Regions from separate parts of the Homo sapiens genome. Here region 2 is linked to region 1. The links come from fine-mapping of genetic effects on gene expression. A gene starts in region 1. The other region holds a variant in brackets. All regions are shown on one strand. Distances are from middle to middle.

The links. PIP is the estimated chance that this variant, and not a neighbour inherited with it, causes the effect.
Region 2: its variant is the best candidate, but not a certain one, in a credible set for the expression of SLC26A7 in spleen (GTEx, PIP 0.69).

Annotation. Positions count from the first base shown.
Region 1 is chr8:91,244,257-91,253,345 of GRCh38, forward strand. It overlaps SLC26A7 (solute carrier family 26 member 7), which reads left to right and starts at 5,063. Exons shown (of 19, transcript NM_052832.4): 1 at 5,063-5,157; 2 at 5,283-5,588. The coding sequence starts at 5,396.
Region 2 is chr8:91,127,759-91,136,847 of GRCh38, forward strand. It overlaps LRRC69 (leucine rich repeat containing 69), which reads left to right. Exons shown (of 8, transcript NM_001129890.2): 4 at 5,352-5,547; 5 at 7,910-7,981. Among named protein-coding and RNA genes, the nearest start is that of LRRC69, 30 kb to the left of the region's middle. The variant A/C (reference allele first, on the strand shown) is at 5,186.

The sequences.
Region 1 (9,089 bases):
ATCCTCAATTAATTATTTTTTACTGCTTTCTCCTTTGCCTTGCCTTTTCTTCTCTTCCTTTCTCCTCTTCCTTTTCTTCTTCTTTTCCTTTTTCTTCTTTCTCATTTTCTTCTTCCTTTTTCTCCTCCCCTCTTTCCCTCTTTTCATTCTTTTTTTATGATTTCTTTGAAAATGTCTTATATTATTGTAAAATGTGTTTGAATATATAAGTGATTCTTTCCCTAGGCATTTTTTTTTTTCTTGCTGCTTTTTTGTGTTTGTTTTTGAGAGAGGATCTTGCTCTGTTGCCCAGGCTGGAATGCAGTGGCATGATCACAGCTCACTGCAGCCCCGACCTCCTGAGTTCAAGTGATCCTCCTGCCTCAGCCTCTTGAGTAGCTGGGACCACAGGCATGAGCCACCATGCCCAGCTAAATTTTTCAATTATTATTATTATTATTATTTTGTAGAGATGAGGTCTCACTATGTTTCCCAGACTGGTCTCAAACTCCTGTGCTCAAGTTATCCTCCCACCCCTGCCTCCCAAAGTGCTAGGATTATAGGTATGAGCCACTGCACCTGGCCCCTAGGCATTTTGTGACTTCACTTGATTTATATTCTTTTGGCTCCTATTATGTATCAAAATAGATCACAGAATATGAAATAATAGCAGAAAGAAAAAAACACACTAAAGAAACTATTGGAAAGTTTAATCCAAAGAAAGCAAAGTAAGACATGTTGGCAATCATTGTTGAGAACATAGAACTTTGCTCACTCTACTGTACTGGTTGGCCTATCATGAGAAAAATATTAACGGCACTGTTCAGGACTGTAATTAACTTATATATGTGCGTCCATATTTGAATGTAAGAGTATTTTTTAAATAAACAGCACCATAGAATATCAGAACTCTTTAGAGGTTTACACTAAATTAATTAGGCCTGAAGCTGAGGAACTAATTATGTGTTATGTGTCATTGGGATTGGGCTCTTAAGTAGCAGATTTTGCCTCAATAATTGGGGAAAAAAAGTTCTAACAATCACAATGTTAGAAAATTGGAATCGGTTATTTTTCTAGGCCTTTTAATTTTAGAAATCGGAAGAATTAAAGCAGAGGTTGGATTCAGGGATGTGCCTGTATGAAACTTTGGGTAAATTAAGAAAAAAAGTACTTTGGTAGACTTGATACAAATTACGCAATTGTGTGGACGTATCCCCATGCCAGCTATGTGGCTTGGTGGGTAGAGTATGGCCTTCCTTAGTATCAGCCTTCGTTTTCCCTCTCAGATGGGAGCCTTTTACAGTGTCTTCTTAGAAATGCTGTAGATCAACTTCCTGAGGTAGGTATGAGTTTGGGGTTGATAACTTCCAATGTCTGATCTATACTTTTCATTGTAACCTCGATATAAATCAGTGTCTTAGGTGTCCCAATCTCCACAGAGACCACATTCAAAGAAGCCTCATGTCAAAACCAAAAATACTGCGAGAGAATTTCACTCTTTACTAATGTCTCTCAGAAACCATTAAATGTGATTCAGTTTATAACCTGCACAGCATTTCTCAAAAGTCTGTTTCTTCACTTGAGCCTGGCCAAATTCCCTCACACTTCATAATTGCCGCAGAGATCCTCACATGCCAACCCTCTACAAATTCTCTCTGAAGCCCCAACCCATGAGGGTGTCTGTCTATCCTTTGTCTCCTTTATTTCTTCCGCATTTCCCATCTGGTTTTTCTTCTCTTTGTGCTCCAGATTTTATAATATTAGAAAAAATAACTGTGTTGAAAAAAGAACTTTCCATAGATTGTGAGAGAACTGGGAGAAGCTGAGCAAACAAAGATAAAATCTCATCTTATTTTTCTCCTAGAACCTTTATTCTCATTTTCTCTCCACCTGGTTATCTGATTTTTTAAGAGCACAACCTGGAAACCAGGATGAGATAGACTAAATGATTTTTGGGTACTTTTGGATGAACATTTGTATGTTAATACTTACTGTGTGAATCCAATGTCTGCAGCTCCTTCTGCTAAATTCTAAAAAAGAAGCAAAGCAATTTATGTGAATAATCCCTACTCAAAAGGAATGTACAATCTCATGAGTCAGACTGGATAAAAATCACATGAAATAGATTTAAAGGAGGAAAACCAATAAACAGTGAAAATGACTACAGCTCTATACACACAAATACACTGAGAGTTACCTGAATGTTCATTACACAGCATAAATAAAATTGTGGAGAAACCAGGGAAAGTTTCGTGGAAGAGGTAAACATTGAGTAAATGTTTAGAAGATGTAAAATACCATGTAACTAGGGCCATTAATATAGAAATAGACTAGTGCACCTGTAATCCCAGCTATTCCGGAGGCTGAAGCAGGAGAATCGCTTGAACCTGGAAGGTGGAGGTTGCAGTGGGTGGAGATTGTGCCATCGCACTCCGGCCTGGGAGTTAAGAGCGAGACTCTGTCTTAAAAAAAAAAAAAAACAAAACGGAAAAGTAATGGCCAGGACATCATGAGTATAATTACCTGCTACAACAGAGAGTCTCAGCAGGCTGAAATACTTTTGTTTTTCCCCGCAAAGGGAATGCCACTCTCCATCCTCTGAGCTCCCGTATGACTTATTGGGTGATTTGACTGTTATTTATCACATTCTGCCTTGAGTTAGTTATACATGTTTTGATTTTCTTCATTAAATAGTAACTCCTAGAATACAGAGGTAGTATCTACTCCTTTTCCTTCCCTTTTCTGTAGCACTTCACACAGAGTCTAGCAAATTATCATTGTTTAATAAAAACTTGCTGAATTAGAGTTAATGAGAAGCTAGTGAGTAGAAGGTGGGAAGGGGAGCAGAGAAGGACTGCATTGCTTCCACTAATGAGTTTAAGTTTGATATTGGAGATAACTGAAATTCAAACATATCAGTGATGTAATCAAAATGAGATTTTACAAAAAATCTTTCTGTTAATCCATGTATGAAGTAGAAGATAACAATTTCATCTTTTTATTTGTATAGGTATTATCCCAGATGTTTAGGAAGAGATATTCCATATAGATGGTACATACTGTTGAACTGTAAGCTACTTTTAGTCATTGAAACTTTTGAATGAATACACTTAGCATTCTTGAATTTTGCAGGCTGTTCAAGTTACTCTGAGAATCTTATGTGTGTGAATAAATTTCCTCATAATGTTTTTCTTTCTTTCTGGCATTGCTGATTATAAATAGGCATGATCCATGCTCTGGTTTGACATGTTTTAAATAATATGTATGCACATGGAAATTGAAAAAAAACATCTGGAATTGGAATTCCAGATTTAAGCTTCAAAAAAGATTTTTAGGAAAGATTCATTCTAATTTTAAGAAATTTTTAAATTGAGAGATTTCAGAACTATTTTGTTAATTTCTACCCTCTCTTGGTCTTGAAATGTTTTAGAACAATTGCTGGTGCTATATGATTTAGGTACTTCTATTTACCTTCAATTCATAAAATCCTGTTCATGTGAATTTTTTGTTATGGAATTTAACACAAATTTAAAAATGATTGAAATTACACAAATGATAGATGTTGATTGGTGATTTCAGTTAAGCTTTCAATTATTTTTCTCATATTGTTAACATACGTTAGAATTTATGACCTAGATAGGATTTGAAAAAAAATCTTGTGTTTATTTTTATTATAAAGGTAATACATAATCAGTGTATGTATAGCTTCTGAATTTCTTTGCGTATATAATAAATGGAGTATATAAAACAAAAGTAAAGATTGCTTTTTGTGAAGGAAAACCAATGTAATGTTTCAAGCATGAATTTACAATTATTTGGTGAGTTCATCTCTCATACCAAGAGGATAGGATTAAAATGCTACAACTTGGTCTCTAAATGGGGCTCTCTCTACAGGCCCCAAACCTGAACTATTGAATGGTTTAGAAATTTAATATAATGTAAAAACAGTTGGACAAACAAAGCAGTTTCTATTTTGTAAGTATAAATAAATTCCCCCCCACCCCGCTGCGTCTCTTCGTTGGATTTAAAAAGAAAGGTATTTTTGCACAGACACAAAGCTAGAGATGTCATCTTTAGAAGATGGAGAGCAACTCTTCACTTTAATTTAAAAACAAAGGGAAAAAGTGCAGCAGGAGGGATCCAAGTACTTTGTTATTATAAAGGCTTCCAGAAATCAGATTTCTATTCTCCAAACAAATGGGCATTAAAAAGGACTCAGCAAACTATATACATGGTATTCTTTTCCTTGGCTACACAATTTTAGTTAGTATGTTGCCTTTTTGGTTTAATTCCAATGGCACAGTTCATAGATTTAAGTTTTTCTTTTTCTTTTGGAGGCTAAGCAAAATGATCATAAAATAAAAATCTTTGACAGTCTGTTCTATTATAAAATGTAACACCCCTTATTAAAAAGAGAACACCTACCCCCAAAAGTTATACAAAAAGAAGGCAGCACCATAAAAAAAGCTAAGGATACTTCAAACAATAGTTTGAACCATATAACATTCCTCAGTAAATTTCAGTTACAGTAGAATGAATTATAGGACTTAGAGAAACCATCAGAGAAAACTGAATGAACAGTTTCAGAGACAGGGAAGATCTCCTGTCACAAATATGTGCTCATTGTGATACTTATTCTCTTAGCCCATGAGATGAAATTTCAGTTTGTTTATGAGAACTAGTTACTCCTTTCCCAGACTGGGCAGTAGCTATCTGAATGTTTCTGTATGAATGAAAACCTCATCTGCCAGGGAATAAAAATGGTAAGGACCTTTAGCAATGCCCTGTTATGTTTCTGAATTTTGTAGAACTGGCAGTCATCTGATAATGTTGAAAATATATAGCTCTCAAAGAAATAGGGCTGGATTCTCTGAATATATTTTGCACAATAGATCCCTCTGGCAGTTTTATGATTTTGCACAGCTTGTAGAGAGAGACTGGACTAGCTGGATATTTCCTGGTTTCATTAGCATAGCCCAGCCCACTTCCAACACACGCCCAGAACTACCTCATTAACCATTGGGATTGCAGCCAAAAACATAAGACTACAGTGAATATAAGGGGAATTACTGGCGAGAGAGCTGTAGACCAACTTAACACTGAACCCATTACTTTTCCAAGACCAGAAAAAAATATTACATGAACAGGAACTACTTCTCCTTCAGATAAGAATTCAAGGTTTTAATCTATAGTTTTTAAATCTAGAATAATTAGCTGTATCATAAAAAGACAGCTGCATATATTGAAGTGCTTCTGTTAATCTCTCTCTCTCTCTCTCTTTTATTTACTTATTTTCTGGGCAGCTTTGACATTGTAAACCACAGACGAATTGGAGCTTGGCATTGAAAGGAGGTGTTCTGCAATGATTTTTTTTCTTGTTTAGAGAAGTTTACTTCTACAAGAAGAAATCTGAAAAATGACAGGAGCAAAGAGGAAAAAGAAAAGCATGCTTTGGAGCAAGATGCATACCCCCCAGTGTGAAGACATTATACAGTGGTGTAGAAGGCGACTGCCCATTTTGGATTGGGCACCACATTACAATCTGAAAGAAAACTTGCTTCCAGACACTGTGTCTGGGATAATGTTGGCAGTTCAACAGGTGACCCAAGGTAATGTATTGCATTTGAGTTTCCTGTATTATGCAGAGTAGATGTCACTTTGCTTCCTTGGAATAATACTATGACCTAGAATAAACAATTTAGCTAAATAAATGGATATTAGCTGTGGGGAAACAAGCATATTGGATATATTTGGAGAAGAGTTTTCCTAATTGTCTTTTTTCCTCTGTATTTTGATAGCTATTAAGCATTGAATAAACTTTTGAATGACATTACATTTTTTCACTGTTAAAATTCACACTGTTTTAGAGTGAAAGATTAGTAATTATGGGAGTGTGAGTTTTTATAACATGATCTTATGGATATAGTTGCCTACTTTCACTGAATCAAGCTATAAAATACTCCTGGCTTGAACACAATCGTTTTGGAACCTAATTAGCAGCACACAATTACCTGTTGTAGCCTTGAGAGTTGCTATAAACAAGGAACAAAGCTTTCTGTACATAAAGGAGGCTCTTTGCCAAGATTGGTATTTGCAAAGAGAATCCTGTGTGTCCTGAGAGCTTATGTTTTACTGTCTATGCTGATTTACTTCTGTATCACATTACCTACTACATCTATTTCTCAGTAAGATATTTAAACTGGTGAGAAGTCTGATTTTAACTTTCCCCAAAACAGACTAAATGATATTCTGGATTTAGATAGGTGTTTCTATTGGCAAAAGCTACCGACCTAGTGTGCATGTGTGTGTATTTGTTTGCCTTAAAGATATATCCATTGCAGTTCTTGGCTAATTCAAATAATTTTCTACCTGTAGCAAGGAAAGGAACTAATTTCTGAACCTTGAGAATTTAGAGCAGTTTCCTTGGCATAGACACTGCAGGCTTATATTTCCTTGCAGTTTCACTACCTCCTTGGCTTTAACTATTATTTACACTGTTAAATTATAAGCACTCTTTTAATTAAATTATTCTGTAGCTGGAACAAACTGGTTTGTGTATTTGTGTTTTTGGTATAATTAGGAACATCTGCACTAGTGACTTTAAGATCCATAATACTGTCATACTTTATAGGATTCCATTTTACTGAATAGTCTTATATTTTTAATGACCATTTTGCCAATAGAAATGCATAGTAATCTTTCAGAAAAATGCAAAGTAAATAACAGCTTTGGGCATTTTTGGACTTGCTTTTATTCAGTTTTAAATTCCAAATGAAACAATACCAATGTACTTTGAAAACTTAAGTGATGAATTTTTTTTTTAACCAGATAGTTTCAGCATGCTATAAATTTATTTTGCTTTAATTTAATGTAAAATGAAAGAGAATTATGTTTTTAAAAATAATTTCTTTTTTTACCTTTGGAAAATATCAAGTTAATAAGACAATTTGAGGATAAGATAAAGTTATCTATGGTGTATCATTAGTGATACTATTTATGTATAAGTTTCAGTAGTTAATTATATGGCTTTTATTTGGGTATAGATTTTGAGGGATTTTGTTTTACGAGTCATGTATTTCACTGGTTATGAAGGGACACATTGGCCAGCCCCAAGACTGATGAGAAGCACAACACATACTCAGCCCTTGTGTCTTGGGAAGTTATGAATCTGGCTGCTGATTCTCTTGGAAGGCTACCAGTGAATGGATAAGGCTGCACTACAAAAACGTTTTTGTTTGTGAAATTTAAGACTAATTATTTTTAAAATGTCTATTCTTTTAAAAACAATTTTCTCAAACTTTTTCATGCTCATCTACTACGTATAGACAGTTAAAAAGTGAAATGCCATAAGCTACCATTTGTTGTAAGAGGCAATGCCCTAAACCCTTACATACATTATCTCCCCCTATCCTAACAGAATCCCAAGACACAGCAGTCTCCTCTCCATTTTCCACAGGAGAAAATGGAGGTTTAGAAGAGTTAGAAATTTTCCCTGGACGTCATACCTGATAAGTAGTGGAGTCAGGACTTGATTCCAAAGCCAACACTCAACATTTTCACTTTATAGTCTACACTGCCAAAATAACAAGACTTTTCATAACACCAATGTTATTAGTAATAGAAGACATTTCTTTGGAAAGGTGTGACTATCCTTCCCTTCAAATTGCTTTTGCATTCAGGTTTCATCCCTGCAGTTTTTAGATTCAAAGGCAAAGTGACAAGAAAAATAACTAGAATAGGATACAGAGTAAGGAAGGCATTTAGATATCATTACCTCTTGTTTGTCTGAATACAATATTGGCAATTATTATCAGCTCAATTTTCTAAGGAAAATTAGAAGAAAGAGGGATAATTTTTGTTCTTGCATCATAACGCAAACAATAGGCTCAAGCACCTTTTTTTAGCTTTACCCATTTTTGTAGCAGCTTTTCAGTTACTCAGCATAGTTGAATTATATAAAATTGTCCAATTTACTGTTTCTTGACCTACAAAGATAGAATGTTTATGTTTCAATCTAGTAGTTGTTTTTCGTTCTTCTTTCTCAAGGAGTGCATTTAAATTAAGGATAATGGAAATTCATTTGAGTGTTTTCTATATGTCAAATAGCAAGAAGCTGTTTTAAATTATTTTAATAAAGTAAATCTTTACTTTATTAAAGATTTCCTAATTGTTAAATATAGATGCTTTTCTATTATCAGTAGCATTTTCTGTGTTGACTACAGTCTTTCTGAAATCCCTTATTCTCTTGGTTTTTAGACACCACTCTTGTTTTTCTCCTGCTACCTGTCTGTCCTTCTCTTCTTATGATTCTCTGCAGATTTTTTGCCTCCCACCAAACACTGGTGTCCTGGAGATTCAAACCCTGGCCTTCACTAAAAGCATAAAAGATGCTAATCACCCCCTTCATGCTAATGAAACTTTCTTCTCAACTTGAGATCTACATATTTATTTATTAATTTTTAAAAACCAGCCAGATTATCATTAAAATGTGATGTATACACTGCAAGACTACCTTTTCCAGCTTTCTTTGAGGTTAGGTGTTGCCCTGTGATTATATTTTGGCCAAGGGAAAATGAGCAGAAGTATACTTCTTCCAGTCCTAGCCTGTAAAAGTCATGTATGATCCTCATGTCCCCTATATGCTGGCAGGTATTAATGCCCAAGGCAAATTTGGAAGCTATGTATTGGAGGTAGCATTGACTCTATCAGCAGCCTTGGTTCCTGAGTGACCTTGGAGATCCACATATTTAAATATGCTAACCTAGAATGTTCTAAATGTACTTCAAATGCTGTGTCTTCAAAACAAACTGAATGTAACCTCCATTCGAACCAGAACTATAATAATAACAACAGTAATTTTTAGGCACAGATGCAAGCAGTATTGTAAGAACACTTGACATATATACAAAACTGAAGTTGGGAGAGGACAAACAACTTGCCTAAAGTCACACAGCAAATGAGTGGAAGAGGTAGGATTTGAACTCAGGTAATCTGGCTCCTGAGACTATGCCCTCACTTTTATACTAGACTTCTTCTCTTAGAAAGTCCTGCACATCATTCTCAACTCTTTCCTCTCTTTTGCCACCCTGCCCACTAGCATACGACCAGCT
Region 2 (9,089 bases), 120 kb before region 1:
GTTCAGGTTTACTTTGGAGACTCCCTTTATTGCCTGTTGAGCAGAAACAGATGTGTCACAGAGCAAGAGCAGCATCCAGGGTTTTAAAAGAGAATACAAAACTTTGAACAGTCCTCAACACAGTGCTTTCTGCAGCACCTAACATCTATTCCAATTTACTTGTCTATACCTCTGGCCAATGTATTATTTTTTCCAAATATATTTTTATAAGGAAAGCAATATTTTAAGTCAGAGCAACTAGAAAAGAATTGAATCAATCTAATTTCTATAAAAGATAAATATTTGCAGCAATGAAAATGCCATGCTAATAGTTGTCTGCTTGCTTTTTTACAAATTCAGCTTATCAATCGATGTATATATTGATGATGATATAATTTTAAAAATCCCTTGGGAGATCTCATGAATGAGGTTCAGGGCATATCTCTGTGCAACTAGATTTATGCCTTTGGACCAGTAATTTAACTACTTTGAACTGCTGCCTTCTCATCTCTAAAGAAAGAATTTTGAATAGATGAACCTCAAAGTTTTTGCAGCTATAACACGTTATGATTTCACAATTTCATACACTTATCTCTGTTTGGAATACAAATTACAGTATTCAAGGAATCGTAAATCTAAGGGAATATGTTAGAAAGATGAAAGAATGCTTTCACTGAAGAAAGTAGGATTGCAGAGTGTATAGGTCTATTCTGTCTTATAGTTAACTCTGGATTGTCTATATTCTGGCCATATCCTACTAGATATCAATTAATTGGTCATCTCTCTAAGTAGAATTCCATTTCTGAGCCTGGGAAAGTTTCTTCACTTTCCTATATCTTAACATCTTCACCTGCAAAATGAGGATGATGATAGTATTTTCAGAAAATAAATCGGATTGTTTTGACAGTTAAGCAAATTCATACAATATATTTAGGGTTGAGCCTTGGACATAAAAGGTATTAGGGTTGAGTAAGTGCTCAATGGATGTTAGCTTTTATTATTATTGGTTGTTATTTTTATTCTAGCTTCTTTCTGTTCCCTTTGTTCACTGATTTCCAGAGACAAAGGAATGACTTCTCAGTGGATTTGGGCAAAGCATTGAGCATATGTAGTTTGGCATTCTCCTCTTGCCCTGCCATGAAGTAAGCAGCAGCCTCAGCAGGAAAGGCTGTGAATGGGGTGGTATATTTAATGCAGAGGAGGGCTAGCAGGGACTCAGAGTGATCATGTCAGCTCTGTGCTGATGTTTGATTTCCTTCTCTCTAAATTCCATATCTTATTTCTCAATTTATTTAGAACTTAGGAGAGGGAAAAGGAGTTTTGTTTTTGGCTCATTTAAACTACAGAATATCAGTTCATGGACTTGGAGTCAAATTTGGGCAGGTAAGAGTTTTACACCTAAACAGCTCTGTCATGGACAGCGCTGCACAGGCACAGGAAGAGGACAGCATGGGCATCCTGGTGACAGAATGAGTCTGGAAGACAGAGAGAGAGAGCAAGGGACTAAGTCAGCAGGCTCAGTTCTTTCTCCAAATTCGTCAGTCAGTGAAGTTGTTCTTCAATCTCCTGGGGAAGACAGATGTCAGGGAGAATCTACAAGTGTATCTCCTATAGATTTTCTTTGGAAAAGTAGGACATCTCCCTGCTTTGTGGAATCGGGAACAATGGCAGATATTTGTTTCTCTCCCTGCTCTTTACTCACACAAATGAATGATGGACAAATGAACAATAGGATCTGAGCTCATTTTATTGCCTTGAAAGAACAAAAAAGTTAAAACCAACTCCCATGATATAGTAAATCAGAGTAGAATCAATAAAAATGATAATAAAAATGATTATAAAAATGATTAATGAAGAAAATTCCCCATCCCTTTCCCCACAGGACCTGCTCCACACATTTTTACTCCATTTCAGTGCTGAGTTGTCCTTCTTTGACCCTTTATACTGCAAAGAACTTCACTTCCTATTATCCTGAGAAATTTGAGCTCCCTCAATTTCCTTCTTTTCAGCATCTTTCTCTCCATTGTTCTATTTCTTTCCTTCCTCTCGCTCTTGCTTCCTTGTCATCTCTCTCTGAAGTCCCGTGTCTTTTGCTTTTGCTTCCTGTGTAACACATTGTAAATTCTCTTCTGTCTTCTCCATTCTACCTTAGATCATTTTCAAAAGTCGTTACTGTCCTTTACATAGTCAAATATAATGGCCTTTTTTTTCTGCTGAATAAAAATTACATAAAACTATTCAATGCATTTTGTACTATTCAATGCATTTTGACAAATGTACGCACACCAATAAGATGTAGAACATTTTCTTCAGCCCAGAAATTTCCTCATACACCCTTCCAGTGAATTCTTACCTCTCATAAGCAATCAATATTCTGATTTCTGTGTTCTTTACAAATTAGTTTTACCAATCCTAGAACTAAATAAATGGAATATGGTATATACATTTTTGTGTCTGTCTTCTTTTGCTTAGCATATTTTTTGAGACTCATATAACTGTTGCATTTATTAGTAGTTCATTGGTTTGTTTTTTGTTTTTGTTTTTGTTTTTTATTGAGACAGAGTCTGGCCCTACTCACCCAGGCTGGAGTGCAATGGCATGATCTCGGCTCACTGCAACCTCCGCCTTCCAGGTTCAAATGATTCTCCTGCCTCAGCCTCCCGAGTAGCTGGTATTACAGGTGCCTGCCACCACACCCAGTTAATTTTCATATTTTTAGTAGAGATGGGGTTTCGCCATGTCTGCCAGGCTGGTCTCGAACTCCTGACCTCAAGTGATCTGCCTGCCTCGGCCTCCCAAAATGTTGGGATTGTAGGCGTGAGCCACCATGCCTGGCAGTTTTTGTTTATTCTGAGTAGCATTTCATTGCGTGAATATGCCCTAAATCATTTGTCTTTTCTCCTATTGATGTACATTTGGGTTATTTCCAGTTTAGGGCTATTATGAATTAAGCTACAATAAACATTATTGTACAAATCTTTTTGTAAACATGTTTAATTTCATTTTCATTTAAATTTCTAGGAGTAAAACAGAAATTTATTTCTCATAGTTCTGGAAGTTGGGAAGTGAAGACCAAGGTGCTGGCAGATGTGATGTCTGGTGAGGGTCTACTTCCTGGTTCTTAGAGTGGCACCTTTCTCACTGTGTCCTCACATGGTAGAAGGGGCAAGGAGCTCTCTGGGGCCTTTTGTAAGGACATTAATTACATTTATGAGGTTTACCCCATCATCATGACCTAATCATCTCCCAAAGGCCCCATCTCATAATACCATCACATTGGAGATTAGATTTTAACATATGAATTTTGAAGAGACACAAATATTCAGACCATAGCACTGTCATTTCTCCAATACCATATGATCTTGATTATCTTGATTGCTGTAGCTGCATTGTAAGTTTTGAAATCAGGTAAAGTGAGTCTTTTGATTTTATTCTTTATAATAGTTTGGCTATTCTAGGTCCTTTCAATTTCCATATAAATTTTAAAATTGATTTGTCTTTTTTTTTTTTTGTTTTGTTTAAGATGGGGTCTCACTATGTTTTCCAGGCTGGTCTTACACTCCTGGGCTCAAGCAATCCTTCCACCTTGGCCTCCCAAAGTTATGGGTTTACAGCCATGAGCCACAGCACCCAGCCCAAGTCAAGTCTTATACAAAAAAAGCTGTCAAAATTTGTATTTGAATCTATTATTGAATCTATAGATCAATATTAAAAAGTTGATATCTTAGCAATATTTTGCTTTTCTATACCTGAATATAATATATCTCTACTTTTATTTAAAGCCCCTTTACATTCTCTCATTCATAATTTATAGTTTTCAGTGTAGAGGTCCCTCATGTCTTTTGTTATATGTACTCTTAACTATTTCATGAAGGTTTTTTTATACATTACTATAAATGGAAATCTTAAACTTTTTATTTTCCAATTGTTTGTGGCTACAATATGGAGATACAATAGATTTTTTAAATATTGACTTTGTAGTTTGTGACTCGGCATTATTTCTACTAGTTTTGTTTGTTAGTTTGGATTATCTCTCTTTAACATTTAAACTTTTGACCATCTCTTTAATTTTGAAATTTTCTTTTCTCACACCTTCAGAGATTCCTTGCTAATCTGGTTCTTCTTCTACTTCTGTGTTCATAACTTTGCTGGGTGCCTTTAATTTTTAATGGTCAGTTGTTTATATTTCTCAAGAATCTTTCTGTTGGCTTCCTCTCTCTTCTCTCTGCCCATTTTCTTTTGTTGTTTTTCCTATCAATCCCAGGTATTCATATGGCTTCTACTATGTACGGAGAGATCTGTAGAATCCTCAAAATTCCCTTTGCTAGCACTGATGACTTCCTAACCTCCAGTCTCCCATTTTCAACTGCCTAAAAATTTAGTTCCCTCATTCTTACATTACTTCAATCTTAACACACTTCAACCTTGAGATCATTACATGTTTTCACTCTTAGCTTTGCAAACAGACACACCTGCATTAGAATTTTGACATTGTTACCTACTAGATAGGTAACTTGGGGAATTTATTTACTGCCTCTAATGCTTTATTTTCCTCACTTTTAAAATAAGAGTAGTAATTCCAACCTCAGAGTCATGTTGATGATTATTAAATTTAATGCACAGGCATGTAGTTGTGCTTAGTAATGTTAATTCCCTTCTGCTTCCTTATTCATAATATTTTTCTTAGCTTACTATTCCCTCTTATTGCCCTATTTTATAAGTTCTTTTATTCAGGGCCAAATTCAAAATGTCAGTTCTTTAGAAAAACTTGCAATATGCTTCAGGAACCATATCTGCAATTACAGACTCAAATTTCCTTAACCTTTTTCTCCTTAGCCAATGGCATTTGCTGTTCTCAGTTTGTGGCTCTATTTAATATCTCCTAAACCAGGGCATCCAAAAGGGCAGAATTTGTGGCTGATTCATCTTTGAACTTCCACAGCAATTGAGCAGTACTCATATCTATTTGGTACTAGGTATATTTATGTCTATGTATGCTTATGCCTGTTCCTGTATTGATCTATATACATAGGTATGTCCGTGTTCTCCTTGTCCTCTAGCTTTCTCTTGGGTATGGCCAATGTATATGTATAAAGAAAGGAAATATAATTTTCTTTTTCTGAAATCTAGGTTTTGATTACCTAACATACTTTTAACATAAGCCATCTGATTACAAAAGATCTTTAAAAATTAAATTTCAGCAAAA[A/C]CTTTTTATACTCATGATCACAATAGTTGTAAACACTTGACTGAAGTAAGCTCAGAAGAGCTACAAAAAATAAATTGACACATGGCTTCTGCTAAGTTGGGCCTATATAGTGGACTCTTATTCTTGTGAGTTTCATTCATATACTTTGGTGTTTTTTTTTTTTTAGATTAAAAAGTCTTACTTATATGAGTATAAATTATAACCAACTAGCCAGCATTCCTAGAGAACTTTGTTTTCTTGAGAATCTTGTTGAACTTCAACTTAACTACAATCAGCTGATATGCATACCTGAAGAGATTAAATTCTTGAAGAAGCTTCAGAAGCTTTTGCTAGCCAGAAACAACATTGGAGTTTTGCCGGAGGTAAGCAAAACATGGAACCACAGTAGTTTGCTGTTGGAGAAGAACTCAACATGATGGGAGGTGGTTATAGATTAGATTTGGGTATCTGAGTATAAGCCACCACTTGCTTTCTCTCAGATTAAATGTAGTCAGTTCCCAAATCCCTATGACAGAAGAAGGCTATAATTTGAATTATCCCACATAGCTAGGGCTGCCAGATTTAGTAAATACAAATATAGAATGCTCACTGAAATTTGAATTCCAGATAAGCAATGATTAAATTTTTTACTATAAGTATGTTGCAAATATTGCATGGAATAGACTAAAAAACCTATTTATTGTTTGGTATTTCTTTCTTTCTTCTTTTTGAGACAGAGTCTTGCTCTGTTGCCTAGGCTGGAGTGCAGTGGCACAATCTTGGCTCACTGCAACCTCCACATCCCGGGTTCAGGTGATTCTCCTGCCTCAGCCTCCTGAGTAGCTGGGATTACAGGCAGACACCACCATGCCCGGCTGATTTTTATAATTTAGTAGAGACGGGGCTTCACCATGCTGGTCAGGCTGGTCTCAAACTCCTGATCTCGTGATCCGCCCACCTCGGCCTCCCAAAGTGCTGGGATTATAGGCGTGAGCCACCGCACCCAGCCTTGATATTTCAATTTAAGTGAGCATTATATATTTTATCTGGTAACGATGTATACAGAACAAAATACAAGTTCATTTTGGCTTTGGAATATGTACTGGCTCTCCTTTTTTCCTTCATATTCACTTTCTGTCCTGCCTTCTGCTTGGGAGACTGACCTGTGTGGGCAGCAGTGAACTTCTTTGTCCTCTGGTTTCCTCTTGGATATGGCAGATGAGAGGCACTAGCAGGAAGTGACAGGGCAGGAGGATAGCAAGTAGTTGATGGTATTCATAATTATGGAGACTGAGAAGTCCTACAGCAGGCTATCTGCAAGCTGAAGACCCTGGAGTGCTGGTAATGTGGCTGAGTCCAACTCTGAAAGCCTCAGAACCAGGGAAGCAAACGGTGTAATTCTCAGTTGGAGGTCAAAGGCCTGATTACTGGGAGGTTGTGGTGGTGGCTGGAGGGGAGGGGTACTGGTGTAAATCTTAGAGTCTAAAGGCTGGAGAGCCCAGCGTTCTGAGGTCCAAGGGCAGAAGAAGAAGTGTCCTAGCTCCAGGAGAGAGAGGAAATTACATTTTTTTTTTCATCAAGTCACTAACTGATAGGATGGTGCCCAGCAACAGTGAACATGTATCTTTCCCACCCCTTCTACTGACTCACACACCCATCTCCTCTAGAAACAACCTCACACAGACACACCCAAAATAAAGCTTTACCAGCATTGTAGGTATTCCTTAATCCAGTCAAGTTGACACCTAAAATTAACCATCACACTAGACTTCTTATAGTTCTATCCCAAACAACTGTTTGCTCTTAATGGAACATCATTTGTTCCAAATAACTCAGAGAATCTCAGCTTAAACTTCACTTTTTCCAGGAAGCCTTTCCTGACCTCCTAATACCAAATTTTCCATATATCACTGTTTCCTTAACCCTTCGTAACACTTCTCATTCTCATAGCACAACTTTGTCCTTGCCTATTTGTGAGTTTTTAAACCTTCATTGAATACTTGTGAGGGGTATACACATGCAAAGATTTGAAAAAGACAGCAACAAATATCAACAGCAATAATAGTGGCAGTCATGGCAGCAAAAACAAACAAATGAAAATGCAAGAGTCGACAGCAACGGAAGTAATGCTATGAAGTGTTTTCAAGTAGGGTGGAAGCCCTTATATCATAACATGAGATACTGAAGGAACACATTGGAGTCTGAAAATCTCTGCAGCTAAAACAATACAAAGGAGAGTATCATGGCAATGGAAGACTATGTAGGACTTAAGAAGAGGACTCCCTTCAAGGATTTGCTGCCTAGCTGTAGGGAATGGGGATTGCAGACAGCCTCTAGCTGTTAGCTCTTTCAGTAACTTAAGTAATCCATTCAACAACCGTATGACTTAAGGGCTTCTATTAGCATTTTCATTTTACAAATAAAGAAATTGAAGTACAAAGCAATTAAGAAATTTGCCCATAGTTATAGTACCTGCCAGAGGTGAGATTTCAACCTAGATGTAGTGTAACTCACAGTGGCCATGTTATGTTGCCCTGGAGTGGTCAGAGGAAATGAAGAATTCAAAGAGCTGGCAGTCCAGGATATGGGGGTCTGCTCGGGAAGATGTGCTGAAGAATTGGTCAGTACAGTGATTAGAAAAGATGGCCACCTTCATCATGTTGGAGCTTTAAAAAAATTTATGATTTTCCTTATGATTTTAAATATTAGATTTAAAAAATCTCTCTCTTCTGTTTTCTGACACAGGAACTTTGTGATCTTAAAAAACTAAGAATCCTAGACATAGCTGGAAATATTATTCAGATATTTCCATCAGGAGTAAGTAGAGTCAACTTCCATTATAATTGAAAAATAATTTTGTTTATGCTATTGGGAATAGAAAAAATATGGGCAGACAGTAAAACCTGTAGTAATTGAAACCTTAAATTATACAAATGACTCAAAGATTTGCTTTTAGAATTTCAAAACCTGTTCTCTCCTGTTTTTTTCTTTGTGTTCTGTGCCTGCTGAACTTGTTTGAACTAAGTTAACTCTGATTGCTATCACAAATATTTTAATATATCAGCTATGATTAAATTTTTTGGTTATTACACACTGCTTTTGGTCACCTCTGGCTTTTTGAAAATATTACTTTCTGGAGCATAAATTTTTATCCCTTGTAATTAATCCAAAGGTGACACTTTTGTTAGTCATTTTTAGGCCATAAACAATGAAAAATGCACTTTTTTCTCATTTGAAAATGAATTTTGACCTCATTTTATTTCAAATATGGAGAAACCGTTTGTCTTGGCAACTCCTAACTTTTGAGAAAGAAATGTCAGTTTTTCCTATTGCATTTTTATATCCAATTGAACATGCTTAAACATTCATGGTAATAATGAGAAGTCCATCTATCCAGAAGGTATTCAATGAATAGTTGTTGACCCATTAATTATTTTTCCTGATTTATCCCCTCTAAATTGAGGTTTCAGTCTTTTTTTACCTCCTAGAGCAATATTTTATACTGAAGGTAATTCAAATATAAAAAAATGAGTGTAAAGTCTATGTTTTAGAAAAAAGTATAGTTTTTAAATTGTGGCAAAATATACACAACATAAAATTTACCATTTTAATCATTTCTACTTGTATAGTCCACGGTACTAAGTACTTTCACATTGTTGCACAACCATCAGCATTATCCATCTCTAGAACCTGTTCATCTTCTCCAGCTGAAACTCTGTATCCATTCAACTCCAACTCCCCATTCCCTTTGTACACCTATTTTAGAAGTTCCTATAAATACTTTGAAATAAGATCTTTCCCCCCTTCATGGCAACCACATATCTACTATATATCTCTGAATTTGACTACTCTAGGTACTCTAGGTACCAGATAAGTGGAACCAGATATTTGTCCTTTTACCACTGACTTATTTCACTTAGTAAAA